Linked DNA regions of Homo sapiens: all the other regions are linked to region 3. The links come from fine-mapping of genetic effects on gene expression. A gene starts in region 3. Each other region holds a variant in brackets. All regions are shown on one strand. Distances are between the middles of the regions.

Region 1 (4,244 bases), 820 kb after region 3:
GTGGCTCACTCCCATAGTCCCAGCACTTTGGGAGGCCAAGGTGGTCAGATCTTTAAGCCCAGGAGTTCAAGACCAGCCTGGGCAACATGGTGAAACCCGATCTCTACAAAAAATACAAAAATTAGCCAGGCATGGTGGTGTGCACCTGTAATCCCAGCTACTGGGGAGGCTGAGGTGGGAGCATTGCTTGAGCCCAGGAGGTCCAGGTTGCAGTGAGCCATGGTTGTACCACTGCACTCCAGCCTGAGTGAGAGTGAGACCCTGCCTCAAGAAATAAAAAATAAAAATAAAAGATGAATAAACTGTCTCTTAATGGTATAATATGGATAGAGGCATCTAACACTGTGGCTGACACATGATAATTGTTCAACAAATGATTGTAAAAACAAACCCTTGGGGACAAATGGCAGCATTTATACTGATTGATTAATGGTTCTCATTTTTGCAATAATCCAAATACCCTGGAGGGTTTTTTAAGGCATCTCCTGCTAGCTCCCACCCGCAGCATTTCTCATGCAGTAGGCCAAGGTTGGAGCCCAAGATTTTACGTTTCTAATAAGTTCCCAGGTGACGCTGAAGCAGCTGAGTTTGTGCCCACACTTCCGAACATGGCTGTTGACTTTTCTTTCCTATCTAAAACCCCCTCCACCTTTGGCTCATTGGTGGAGACTGCTACCGATTGCCTATCCAATATCAACTGCCCCTTTTCCTTACTAATAGACTCTGATTTTCTTCTAGGCAGCAATGCAAATACTATATTTCCCAGCCTCACTGCTGTGAAATGCAATCAATAATTCAGATGCAGGAGTTGTTTGATGGGACTTATAGGAGAATCCCTAAAGGCACTGCAAAATGGTAACACAAGTTATTTTGCCCTTTCTCCTTCTTCCATTTATGGTAATGTGGGCATGATGGTTGGAGGTACAGCAGTCATCTTGGATCATGAGGCTCTACATGAAAGATCATGGAACAGAAACACAGAACGAGCCAGGATCCTTAATGACATCGTGGGGCAGACTTGCCAGCCCGTCGATTCTTTACCTCAGATTTTTCCTATGTTAAAAAAAAAAAAAGCTCAAAAATTTTAAACCACTGTTATTTTGTTTTTACATTTTCTACAGAAAACCTAATCATATGTGATTTAGCTTCTAATGCATTGTAGCGTTCTTTTTGTCCTCTGGCTTCTCAAATTACTCCTCTCTGTCCCTCCTCCCCTTCATCCTCCTCCTTTTCCTCCTTCTTCTCCTTCTGTTCTTCTTCTTTTTAACTTTTTTTTCTTTTTTCTGCCTTTGAGAACACATCTTCTCCAGGGATTTGACCTAATCATTCTTCTTTTCTCTACTCCATCTTCCCTCTTTTCTCTCCAAACTTGTTCTTGACAATCTCAGCCAGCTTCACAGCTCCAGCTATAACCTTTATTTGAGGACTCCCAAATTTGAATCTGTAATCTTTCATTTGCAGAGAAAATGCTGCAACTGTGCATCCTCACCCAGGTATCCTAATGGACCAGCACCTGCAAGGTTTCCAAACTGAATTTCTGATCTTCCCTACAAAATCAACTACTTTTCTTCTGTTTCTCAATAGACCACCTTACTTTTTATTTCACAACATGGAAACTTCCAAGTCATCTTGAACTGTGCCTTCTCCCTTGGCTTGATAAATGATCAATTATAAACTTATCTGTAATTGATTACCCAATTTAATATCTATAATAGAAAACTCTCCTCTCCGTCCCAACTTTGATTTTTGCAGCTCAGGTATTTGTCATATTCCGGGCCAGTGAAATAGCCTTATACCTGTTTTTTCTCCCTCACTTCCACCATTTTATGTGTGTCTGTCTGTGAGTGTGGGTGAAGTACTGCTGTAATCAGATTCAACCCCCATGCAGCCACAGTAATACACCAAATACAGCCTGCTATCTGACACCAACATAGCTTTCCAAATATAATTTCCACTGCTTCTCATCATATGCTTTTTCTCAACTTCATTCATCCCATACTGATATGGTTTGGATCTGTGTCTTCACCAAATTCTCATGTTCAGTTGTAATCCCCAGTGTTTGGAGGTGAGGTCTGGTAGGAGATGATTGGATCATGGAGGTGGTCTCTAATGGTTTAACACCATGCCTCTTGGTGCTGTCATCATGATAGTGAGCTCTCATGAGATCTGGTTTTTTGCAAGTGTGTGGCACCTGCCACCACGTCTGCTTTGACCATGTAAGACTTGCCTGCTTTCCCTTCACCTTCCGCCATGATTGAAAGCTTCCTGAGGCCTCCCTAGAAGCCACTATGCTTACTGTACAGCCTGAAGAACCATGAGCAAATAAAC[C/T]TCTTGTCTTTATTCAGGTATTTCTTTATAGCACTGCAAGAACAGACTAGCACATATGTGATTTACTTCTTTTAGTATTTGACCTATAATTCCCATTTGCTAAGTCGTTCATGCAGTTTCATTTGCCAATAATCCCTACTACTTCCCACTTCCTCGTGCCTGAATCCTACCTATTCTTTAGGCTCAAAAAAATGCCATCTCAAGACTCTACAAAGCCTTTCATGAGCTCTTGAGCTGAAAGTTCTCTCTCCATGCTTTCAAATCCTCTGTCATTGTATATGTATATCTTAAGGCACTAACTTTTTCCTTCCTATTGTAGTAATCAGGATACATAATTTATCTTGTGAATTAAACCTGTCTTGTTCACCTGCGGGTCCTTCAGATGATAGGTTCTCAGTAAACATATTTGAAGTGAGTAAACACTATTTTTAGTTGTTGAGTGCATGAATAAATACATACGTATTAGATGTTTGAGTGTTCCATATAATCTATCCTCTCACCACCATGGCGGCTACACACTCCACATCCACGTTCCAGCCTCCATTACTTTGGACAGAATTGGCAATGAAAAGTGAAGAAAACAAGAAGGCAAGAAAACTCAGGCTTATGTCAATATATTCCTTTCTTGAAAAATACGTAAAACAGAAAAGAAAAGGTTAAGTTTAAATGGAACTTTGATGGGTAAGAAAAGGATTGTGAACGTTTTTTGCTGCAGGAAAGATATTTTTGCTCCTTTAAAAATATTAAGAATCTTATTGAAAGGGGTCAAGTGTACCTTGTTTGAGTGTCCAACAATAGGGGCTTTCTATTCACAGCACATTTCATACTTGCTCTATTGCAACCCAACTGTTTTTCAGTGAAGCCATGTGCCTTGATTATATTATCACTGCCTTTTGAAGACTCTCCTGAGGCTTTTTTTGAGAGCAAAACCCCTTTCAGTTTCATTCCAACATGCAGGAGAAAAGGTAAGTGATGTGAATTCCACGTTGGGGTCATTAATATCACGTGCTGCACTGAGTGGGACTTCACATCCCACTCAGGGACTTCCCTTGGCTGTGTGGACAGAGGGCTGCACCCCTGCCTGACAATCTCCAGCCCCAGAGACCATACAGGCAGGTCCCAATCCTCCTCCTAGCAGCACAGACAGTCAGATATGGGGGAAGAGCACAGTTACAGGATTCTTGGTCATTTACTGAGCCTGTAATATCCTATTTATTTCACCAAGATGTGGTCAATACACTCCTCTAGTTCTCTTATCTCAGTTTTCTCATCTGGAATATAACCTGCATGGAGAATCCTTGTTTTCCATTCCGTAGAGTATGATACAAATTCTGAGGATTTAACTTACTTTTTTTCCAGTTGAGTCACCATCTGAGATACTTCTGCCACCTCAAAAGCCACAAAGAGGGTGTGGTTCATACCTATTAGATGACCCATTAGGGATGAGGGTCATGTCAGGGATATTCCTTTATTTTGTTATTTCTGTAAATATTCCCTTGCCTTCCTCCAACTGAATGTGCTGTGGGTCTCAATGAAGCAGCTCCCTACCGGAAGGGTCTGGTCACTCTCATTGGCTTTAGGAGAAGGGATGGGAAGCAGAAATCATTTTCCAACCTTCACCTTTCTGGACCAATGACTGTACACCCAGGATAGTTTGCAGAAAGCTATTAAACTGATCATCTTTCAGTTATTTTCTAAGCATCTATTAGCCCCTGGCCTTGCTACCTTCTCCTCTAGGTATCTCCCAAAGAAGTGAGGCATCCCATGCACAATTCCTCTTTTCTCTTCTCTCCAACTTGCTGTGGCTCTCTCCCTTTAAAGCCTCCTCCCTTTCGTGTCTCACCTCCCTTTTCTTGCCTAGGATGTGCCATCTTCCCAGTGATGAACCCCCATCCCTTCAGGCTTCTTAGGCCTGA
Region 2 (4,244 bases), 42 kb after region 3:
CAAGTCTTGCGGTTGAGTGGTGGGATATAAGCCAACTTATAAGTGGAGGGATATAAGCCAACGGCTCTCCTGTTGATGAGTGAGTGACAACATCAATCTTTGCTGCAGAATCTTCTTTCTTGATGCCACTGACACAGGAGTTGGAAGATCTGGGTAACACCTGCTGAGGGTCATTTTCTGTACTATTTGCATTATTAATGGGAGGCAAATACCCCTGACTCTTCAATGTCTTGTAAATTCAGAAGTTCAAATTTTCCATCTCTCTCTACCAGTATTGTCCTATCCTTGTTTATTTCACAGCTTCCATTAATAAGTGACAGGAGCATATTTTCTTGTCCCAAATCATTGGAAATACATCACTGTGACAGTTTCCCAAATATATTTCTTTCATTTTCAAAATAACTTTTGTAAGTATTAGTGTCTTTTAGTGGAGGAACTTCCAGATCAACTAATTTGTCCTTGAGCTTAAATTTTCACTCCCTTTTATCATTCACGGGTTCTTGATTCTATAGAAGCTTGTTAGCTTGTACAATTTTCTCCATAATGTATCACCTTACTTCCTCATCCTCTTCCTCCTCCAAGTCTTTCTGGCTTTCTAGTTTGGACTCCTGGAAAGAGTTTTCACTATCTGAATCTGATATGGGATCCAAAGGTTGAATACTCGGTACCGAAATGAAGTCATTTCTTCTTGGTGAGACCTCATCCTGCAAAGATTTGTCAGGATCAGAAAGCTGTTTGCTGTGTTCTATTACTGTTTCATTCTCTTTTAAGTCTTGGTTAATATTCTCTTCCTTCTCACAAGCCATCTCTATTATGCTGGCATCACTTTTTTCATTTTCATTAGTTAACCCCTCCAGGTCCTTTTCAGATTCATCTTTGTATTCTTCACTTTCTTTTGAATCAGTCTCTTTATTTTCATTCATTTTCCTCTCTCCCACCATTAATATTTCTACTCCACACCGTCCTTCCCTTCTCTCCCTCTGTTTCCCTCCTGTCTGTGTAAAATGCGGCGGCTGGGGTCACAGAGACGGCCAGGGGAGTTCTCCTCTCCTCCGCTTTCTAAGCTCTTCACATCGAGGCAAGGGAGACCCTGGCACCTGCCTCCGCAGCAGCCAGGACCACACTGCCATGGCAACAGCATGCCTCTGTGTCCTCCATCTGGGCCTCTCTGGCAGATCAATTTTTGAGGACATAAAACCTTTGTGTCTTTATGTATGAATCCTATAAGAAATTCCAGCTAAAAAGTAATGCTTCCCACAAAGAACTTGTATGTTTTCCCTTCTCAGATGTTGAAAGCTGTGTAACTTTTCAGTTTTCATTTATCTTGGCTGCCAAGATGCTCGGAACTGAATTCGTAATTATTTTATCCTTGGTTTCTAGCAGTCATTTCCCCCTTTGCATATTTTCTGACATCTTTTTTATCTTTATTTTAACTGTGAGGCAGTATCTAATATTGATGCTAGAATTAAACTGCCTACTCTCAAATCCCAGCTCTGTCACTTATAGCTGAGTAACCTTGACATTTTAACCTCTGTATGCCTCAGTTTTCTCTTCTTTAAATTGGAGGCAATAATACTACTTGCTTCACAGAATTAATGTAAGGGTTGAAAGGGCTTATCTATAAAAGTACTTGGAATCGTGCCTGGCACATACTAAACATAATGTAAATACCATTAAATCCATGTTCTAAAATACTCTGTGCATGTGTACTTTGCAAAGTACCACAAACACATTTGGGAAGCAGGCAGGATATAAACATTATTTTTATTAAATCTCTATTTTGTTTTAAATCACAGAATTATGTTCTGACAATAACCAATTTAAACAACAGAAAAGTGGTTACAGAATCCCTGCCCCTCCCCAGGTAACCAGAAACCCCAGTTATGCGGAAATAACTACCGTGTTCCATTTCTTCGACTTCAGTCTGTTCATCCTCACCTGTTGAGAATTTTCTTTCTATACAATAAGTGCACATGCTATATTGAATACAGACTTTGCATGCTCCCTTTCTAACTTGATATGCTCCCTTTCTAACTTGATAACTCTCTTGCCAAGTCACAAGACTCAGAAGCTGTCTACCCCAAATCAATCTGACAGTTTGAAAACTTAGTCTTATATTTGTCTTATGTTTTGTTTGTTTGTTATAAACTTGGCTCACTTAGATTCACTTTCCTACGACAGTGCCCACGTTGGAGTTCGTTATCAATAAAGCAGGGACAGTCACACCTCCTTTATAATCAGGTTGCTGGCGGATTTGATGCTGTGATGGTGTAATGGGAGTTCTAAGTGCTGGCCAGCTGCACTTCCCTTTCACTGCCAGCGGGGGCGCAGTCTAACTGAGAAGTTGTCCTGGGGGAGAGCGTTCTGGAGG[G/A]TAAGAAGTTTGTCCCACGAGGTTTCTCTTACTTTGCCTCCGCAGTATACACGTACATCCAAAGCCGGTTCTACCGATCCCCAGAAGTGATCCTGGGCCACCCCTACGACGTGGCCATTGACATGTGGAGCCTGGGCTGCATCACGGCGGAGTTGTACACGGGCTACCCCCTGTTCCCCGGGGAGAATGAGGTGGAGCAGCTGGCCTGCATCATGGAGGTACGCGGAGGGCTGGCGGTCGGCTCCCACGGAGACCGTGGGCTTGGCCCTCAGACACGGGGCTGCACCAGACTCGCCCAGGACCATGGCCTGCATACCTTGTTGTTGTTGTTGTTGTTGAGTATTCCCTAAAAGGAGTTTTGAAATTGTGTACTCCCTTGTACTTGTCAAGTCGACATCTAACGTTTTATCATAAATTTAAATAGTTGCAGAGGATGTCATTTCCATCATATTGTAAATAGTGACATTTTAAAATAAAATTACACCGCTCTTTCAAAAATATCCAAAAGAATGCAAAACCAGACGGACATGACACCCATTAAAATCTATCTGATAGTATGTGAACAGGTTCTTAAGAGTTGTGCCATGATTTTACTTTGTTCTTTTTTCCCTTTTGTTTCTACTCTTTTTTCTACTTCCTCTATGGAATTTTATTCTAATTTAATATACGTTTATGTTTAGAAACTTCTATCAATCATTATAGCTTTAAAAATTTCCTGATACCGTAAGCCTCATGTGTAAAAATTTCTTTCTGGTAAGTTACCATTAAAATATATCTGGTGTGCAAATTTTGATAATTATTGAAAATAAAATGTGAAATCTTATTGGGCATACAGCTCTTAGAAAAATGAATAGAGCTGGGTTTTTTTTTTTTTTTTTTTTTTTTTTCCAAATTAATGCCTATACCCATAGGTGAATAATGCTTCTTGCTAGAATGCCCGGGCTCGGGATCAATGTGATTCCAATTGCTTGGTGGTGTAGATGTGAACCCAGTGAGGAAGCCTGTTCTAATTAATGTCGTCTAATTCGGTGACTCCTTTTGAGTTCTGTGTAAGAATCAAATGGTGATCTGTCATCTAAAATTATGTTTACCAGCCTGTCAGCTGACAACCCGATTAAAATGTTGAAAACAAAGAATTGGAAATTATTTGACTTCAAAGTATGTGTATTGTTCAGGCATTAGTCATTCATTATGGGAAATGACAGTTTTCTGGGAAAACTATCTCCTAATAGCAAGGCTTGACCAAGACTCATGATATGATTATTAATTATATCTATTATGCTTTCACTTGAAAGCCATCTTGTTTTGGAAATAAATTAGACAAAATAGAAAAATAACTTTAAAAATTTTAAATTTTACATTTTAGGATTTTCCCAGTGAACAAAGATATTTTGTGTGCAAACACCAAGCTAGCTGGCTGGCTGGCTATCTATCTATCTATCTATCTATCTATCTATGTATCTGTATCTATCTATCTTTGCCAAATTTCTATTTTCCAGATTGTCTCAAAGTTACAGAGAAACACATATAGCCTTGAGAATGACTAAACATAGATAATTTCATTTCATGATCGAAACTAATAATAAAATATTAAAATAACTTAGGTAAAAATAGCTGTGGTGGAATGAACACTGGCCTGCGAGTCATTAAACCTGGGGTCTTAGTCCTGGCTCTGTCTTTTTGACTAGGCATTTCCCAGCTCTGGACTATAAAATGAGGGGAGCAGAGAAGATGGCTTCTAAGGTTGATAATGAATGATTTTATAAAGCATCCCCAGACCACTCCTGCTTCCAATACCAAAGAGAACGGGGCCTATGTTTCAAATTTCCTACAGCCCCAGAACTGACTCAGCTTCCTCTTGACCTCAGTGTCA
Region 3 (4,244 bases):
TACCAGTTTCATGTTCTATGCAAACTCCAGGGGTCACTTATGTGACAGTGACTGCCAAGTCAGGGTCTGTACCCTATACCATGCTCTTGACAACAGAACCTGTGGATGGTCCACTGACAATTTGATGTAGCAGATCAGTTGTTAAATTCAACGTCTCCTCCTACCCCTGACATCTCTCCTGTGTTTTCTGTTGGTAAATGAATGGCACCACCATCACTGCAGGTGCCAAAGGTGTCATCCTGGGATTGAGTCTTCTCTCGACTTTCACATCCAGTCACCAAGTCTTACTCCATTTCCTAAATTTCTCAAAACTACTCTTCCATGTGCTCTCCCTTACTCTGAAACATCATCACTCACTATTTCTAACAGGCATCCTTGCCTTGATTCTTAACCTACTCGGGCCTACTTCCATTGTTATTGCCACAGAGGGTTTTATAAAATAAAGTCAGCATGAACACCCCTCTGCAGTCTGCACATACACACCTTACCCTGGTCGAGTTCATAGCCTACTTGGTGTCTGACTCCCCCTTTCCTGCTGCTTCAACCTTGTCTCTGCCCACGTGCAACTTTGATCCCTGCCCCACTAAACTGGGTGCTGGCACAATGGTACCAAGCTTTTCTATGGCTCTGGCCTTCAGAATAGGACTTGCCTCCTTTACGTAGACAACTACTGCCTGTCCTTGAAGACTCAGATTCAACTCAGCTCTTTCAGAAAGCTTCATTTGAATGTCTTTTCTGCCTGGACCAGACTGTGCACCTCCAGGTCAACCTACTGCCACTCAATTACAAATTTCCCTTTTCATGCTTTCTACAATCTGGTGCAGAGTAAGCACTCAAAAAGTGTTCAGCTGATATATGGATTTTACCCAGAACTTTTGCTATGTACTTACTTTTTTTCTTTTTCTTTTTCTTTTTTTCTTTTTTTTTTTTTTTTTTGAGATGCAGTCTCGTTCTGTCGCCAGGCTGGAGTGCAGTGGCGCGATCTCGGCTCACTGCAACCTCCGCCTCCCGGGTTCCAGCGATTCTCCTGCCTCAGCCTCCCAAGTAGCTGGGACTACAGGCACGCACCACCACGCCCCGCTTATTTTTGTATTTTTAGTAGAGACGGGGTTTCACCATGTTGGCCAGGATGGTCTTGATCTCTTGGCCTCGTGATCCACCCGCCTTGGCCTCTCAAAGTGCTGGGATTACAGAAAAAAATGTCTAAATAGAGACAGGGGCGGGGGGGTCTCACTACTTTGAGCAGTTTGGTCTCGAACTCCAGACCTCAAGTGGTCTGCCTAGGCCTCCCAAAGTGCTGGGATTGCAGGTGTAAAACCACCGCGCCCGGCCAGAACTTCTGTGATGTAATTCTGATAACCACATGCTTCGCTTGAAGAAGGGGAGAGAGTAGGGATAATTTCATGTGTCCGGTCTGGGCAACCAACTTTAAGTTCTTTATGCTGGGATTTTGTTCAATTCTTGCCCTATACTTTAAAGAACTGGGGCAAGAGAATGCGAGTAGGAGGACGAGGAGTATGTTCTTCAGGCTGCTACTCTGCAAGGTGGTTTGGGACCACAGCCTGAGAAAGCCCTTCCAGCTCTGGAGTCATAAAAAGGGCGGGAGCCGTTTCTATAGCGACGGGAGGAGGGCGTGGCCGTCCCTTGCCCTCTGCCGGGCTCTCACAGCCTCCCGCAGCGGCGGGCGGTCAGCGCCGGCCTCATGCAGCTCCTCCCGCCGCCTATCCGCACCGGAACAAAGTAAGGGCCGCGGAGGCTCGTACTTCACGAGCAGTCAGGCGCGAGTACGAGGCAGGCGACGAAGCTTCTGGTCGACGGGGTCGTGGGGGGAGAATGAAAAGCGTGCAGAATGCAAGAGCTGACCGGGGAATGTGGGTCAGAGAGAGGCGGGCTGTGGTGCGCGGACAAGAAAATACAGTTGTAGTTTTTGCAGCAGCTGCATCCCCGGAATCCGACGTCAGTATACTTCCATGTTAAGATGCTGTCGCATCGGCGACTCCAGCTGAGTGCAGGACAGGGAGCGAGGGGTTCTGAGGAACTCAGCAGACCTATCCTGGAACTGTGCTTCCAGCCCTCACTGGGACGCCAGACTTTCTTCCTCCCTTTCTTTCTCTTCTTTACTGCATGTCCTCTTGGTAGTCGTAAGTGGGTCCACGACCACACGCCTCGCGTGGATGAGGCTCTGGCAGGCATTACTCATGTTCCCACCCAGCCCATATGCCCGGGCACCTCTGTGCTCAACCAGGGCCCAGCCCCTGACACAAAAGCGCGCGAAGGTGTGTGTAGATCACACACCCAGAGCTGCCACTCAGGAAATTCCCAATATTAGCAAATCTTTCCTTAAAAAAGAGATGAACAATGCACAATTTGAGGGTTTTTAAAGGCTATTCTGTGACATTTGCTGCATTTGAAATGTCCAGCAGCCCCTCAAAGCTTAGGAAAACCGTGACCCCTCTGACATGTCTTAAGCAACGGACAGCATCACCAATATTAATTCAAGCTTCACTGTCCAGGCTTAAGTGGAGACTCGGCAAAAGCAGGAGGCCATTTAGTGGAAAAGTTCAAACCGTGGAAACAACAAATGAAAATGTCCTTTGTCTTGCTTGAGCGATTTGATCACCTACATGTGGTCGGTATGTAAAACCTAGGAGTTCGAAGAAATTCTTCAAACATGCACTCTACCTTATTGTTTCTGTTACTTAAATCTGTTGTTTCTCTTGTTTGTTTTGGTCCTTATGGAGAAAGCAGAGGTAAATCGGAAGGGACTCTCTAGCAATATGCCAGCCACTCTTCCCTGACTTTGCCCTCTCCAACTCCACATATTGTTGCCTGCAACTTGGCTAGAATGCATAGTCCTCAAGCGTGTGGAGGACCCAGTGCTGGGATTTAGTGGTTTTAGCTGACTCTAAGCCCATCGTGAGTGTGTTGTGATGGCTCCCCAAAGAGCAAATGCTGGTGGAGGCTGCATTCATAGAAATGCAATGACCACATCAAAGAATATGGTCGTGCTGCCTGACTTAGCAATGAGTAGAACATAATCCAGACTCTAGAAACTGTAGCTACTTTGAGATCACAAAGAACTGGAAAATAGGAACAACCACAAGGCAGGCTCTCTCTGTCAGGCCTGGGTGTGCCATCACATGAAGAGAGGTTTGAAAAAACTTCACAGAATGCCTGGAGATGAGGAGATGCAAGGGAGAGAAAGCTTTTTTCTACTCAACTTTTGAACATTCAAGAACTCTTGAGTAGAAAAGAGATAGATTTGTTCCTTGGTACTCTGCAGAGGATAGCAAGGATCAGTGGAGGAAATTTTGCTCAATATAGTTTATTCTTCCAAGAAATATCAAGTACCAACCCTATGTAAATTAACAGTTGAGTGTGAAATGGGTTGCCTAGAAAAACAGTGCACTCTGTCATAGAAATATTCCAGCATAGACAGAGTGATTGCCAGGAATACCATAGAAAGAGGATTCTTCCCCAGGGTGGGAAAATGGATGACATGGTCTCCAAAACCTCTTCTAGCTCTTTAGAGTCTGGGAGTCAGTGAACCCTCAAGAGTCTCAGGGATATATGCAGAGGGTCCAAGGAATTCTCTGGCAGAAATGAGTGTGACTTAAAATACATTTAGATAGAAGAAATAAGACCTAGTGTTTAATAAATCAGTAGAATGACAATAGTAAACAATAATCTATTGTATATTTCAAAATAGCTAGTAGAGAATAATTTGAAGCCCTGACTTGATTATATATTATATAAATATAAATATACATCTATTATATATCAATTAAAAAATGAATGTAACTTAAGTTCATTAAAAACATTATCACCTGTTCACAGAATGCAAACGGAATCCCTGCAAACCCTGCACTGCCATACTTTCTGCCCCAAAGACAGCCCCCAGGGCATAAAGATCAAGCTACTGGCAATTGCAGTAGAAATCCTAAAATCATAACAGGTAAATCTCAAAAGACTTGTTTCCTTTCTGGATATTGAAGTACTCTATACACAGATGATGTGTATATATTAATATAAAATACTATGCAGTGCAGTAAGGCTGGCACCTCTGTGGATCTGCCTTAACCTTGAGTCTTCGAACTCCTTGAAAACAAGGCTTCTGTTTTATTTATCTTTGAATCCTCCATGCTTAGCCCAGTAGCTGGCACACAGTTGATGCTCTGGAATTTTTTGATGAATTAATCTATTTTAGATTTCTCTTCCCTCAGCAAATTTGTACCAAGTTTTCA

Evidence for each region.
Region 1: its variant is fine-mapped to the expression of DYRK4 in cerebellar hemisphere (GTEx, PIP 0.98).
Region 2: its variant is fine-mapped to the expression of DYRK4 in whole blood (TOPMed, PIP above 0.99). The same link has a PIP of 0.9 or more in CD4 T cells and CD8 T cells.

Annotation. Positions count from the first base shown.
Region 1 is chr12:5,385,329-5,389,572 of GRCh38, forward strand. No RefSeq gene overlaps it. Among named protein-coding and RNA genes, the nearest start is that of NTF3, 45 kb to the right of the region's middle. RefSeq lists an enhancer at 2,879-4,078. The variant C/T (reference allele first, on the strand shown) is at 2,329.
Region 2 is chr12:4,602,498-4,606,741 of GRCh38, forward strand. DYRK4 (dual specificity tyrosine phosphorylation regulated kinase 4) reads left to right here. Exons shown (of 15, transcript NM_001394779.1): 11 at 2,417-2,589. It also overlaps the pseudogene LOC103568124. Among named protein-coding and RNA genes, the nearest start is that of DYRK4, 42 kb to the left of the region's middle. RefSeq lists an enhancer at 2,324-2,663. The variant G/A (reference allele first, on the strand shown) is at 2,372.
Region 3 is chr12:4,560,544-4,564,787 of GRCh38, forward strand. It overlaps DYRK4 (dual specificity tyrosine phosphorylation regulated kinase 4), which reads left to right and starts at 1,665. Exons shown (of 15, transcript NM_001394779.1): 1 at 1,665-1,740. The coding sequence starts at 1,703. RefSeq lists a silencer at 1,500-1,794.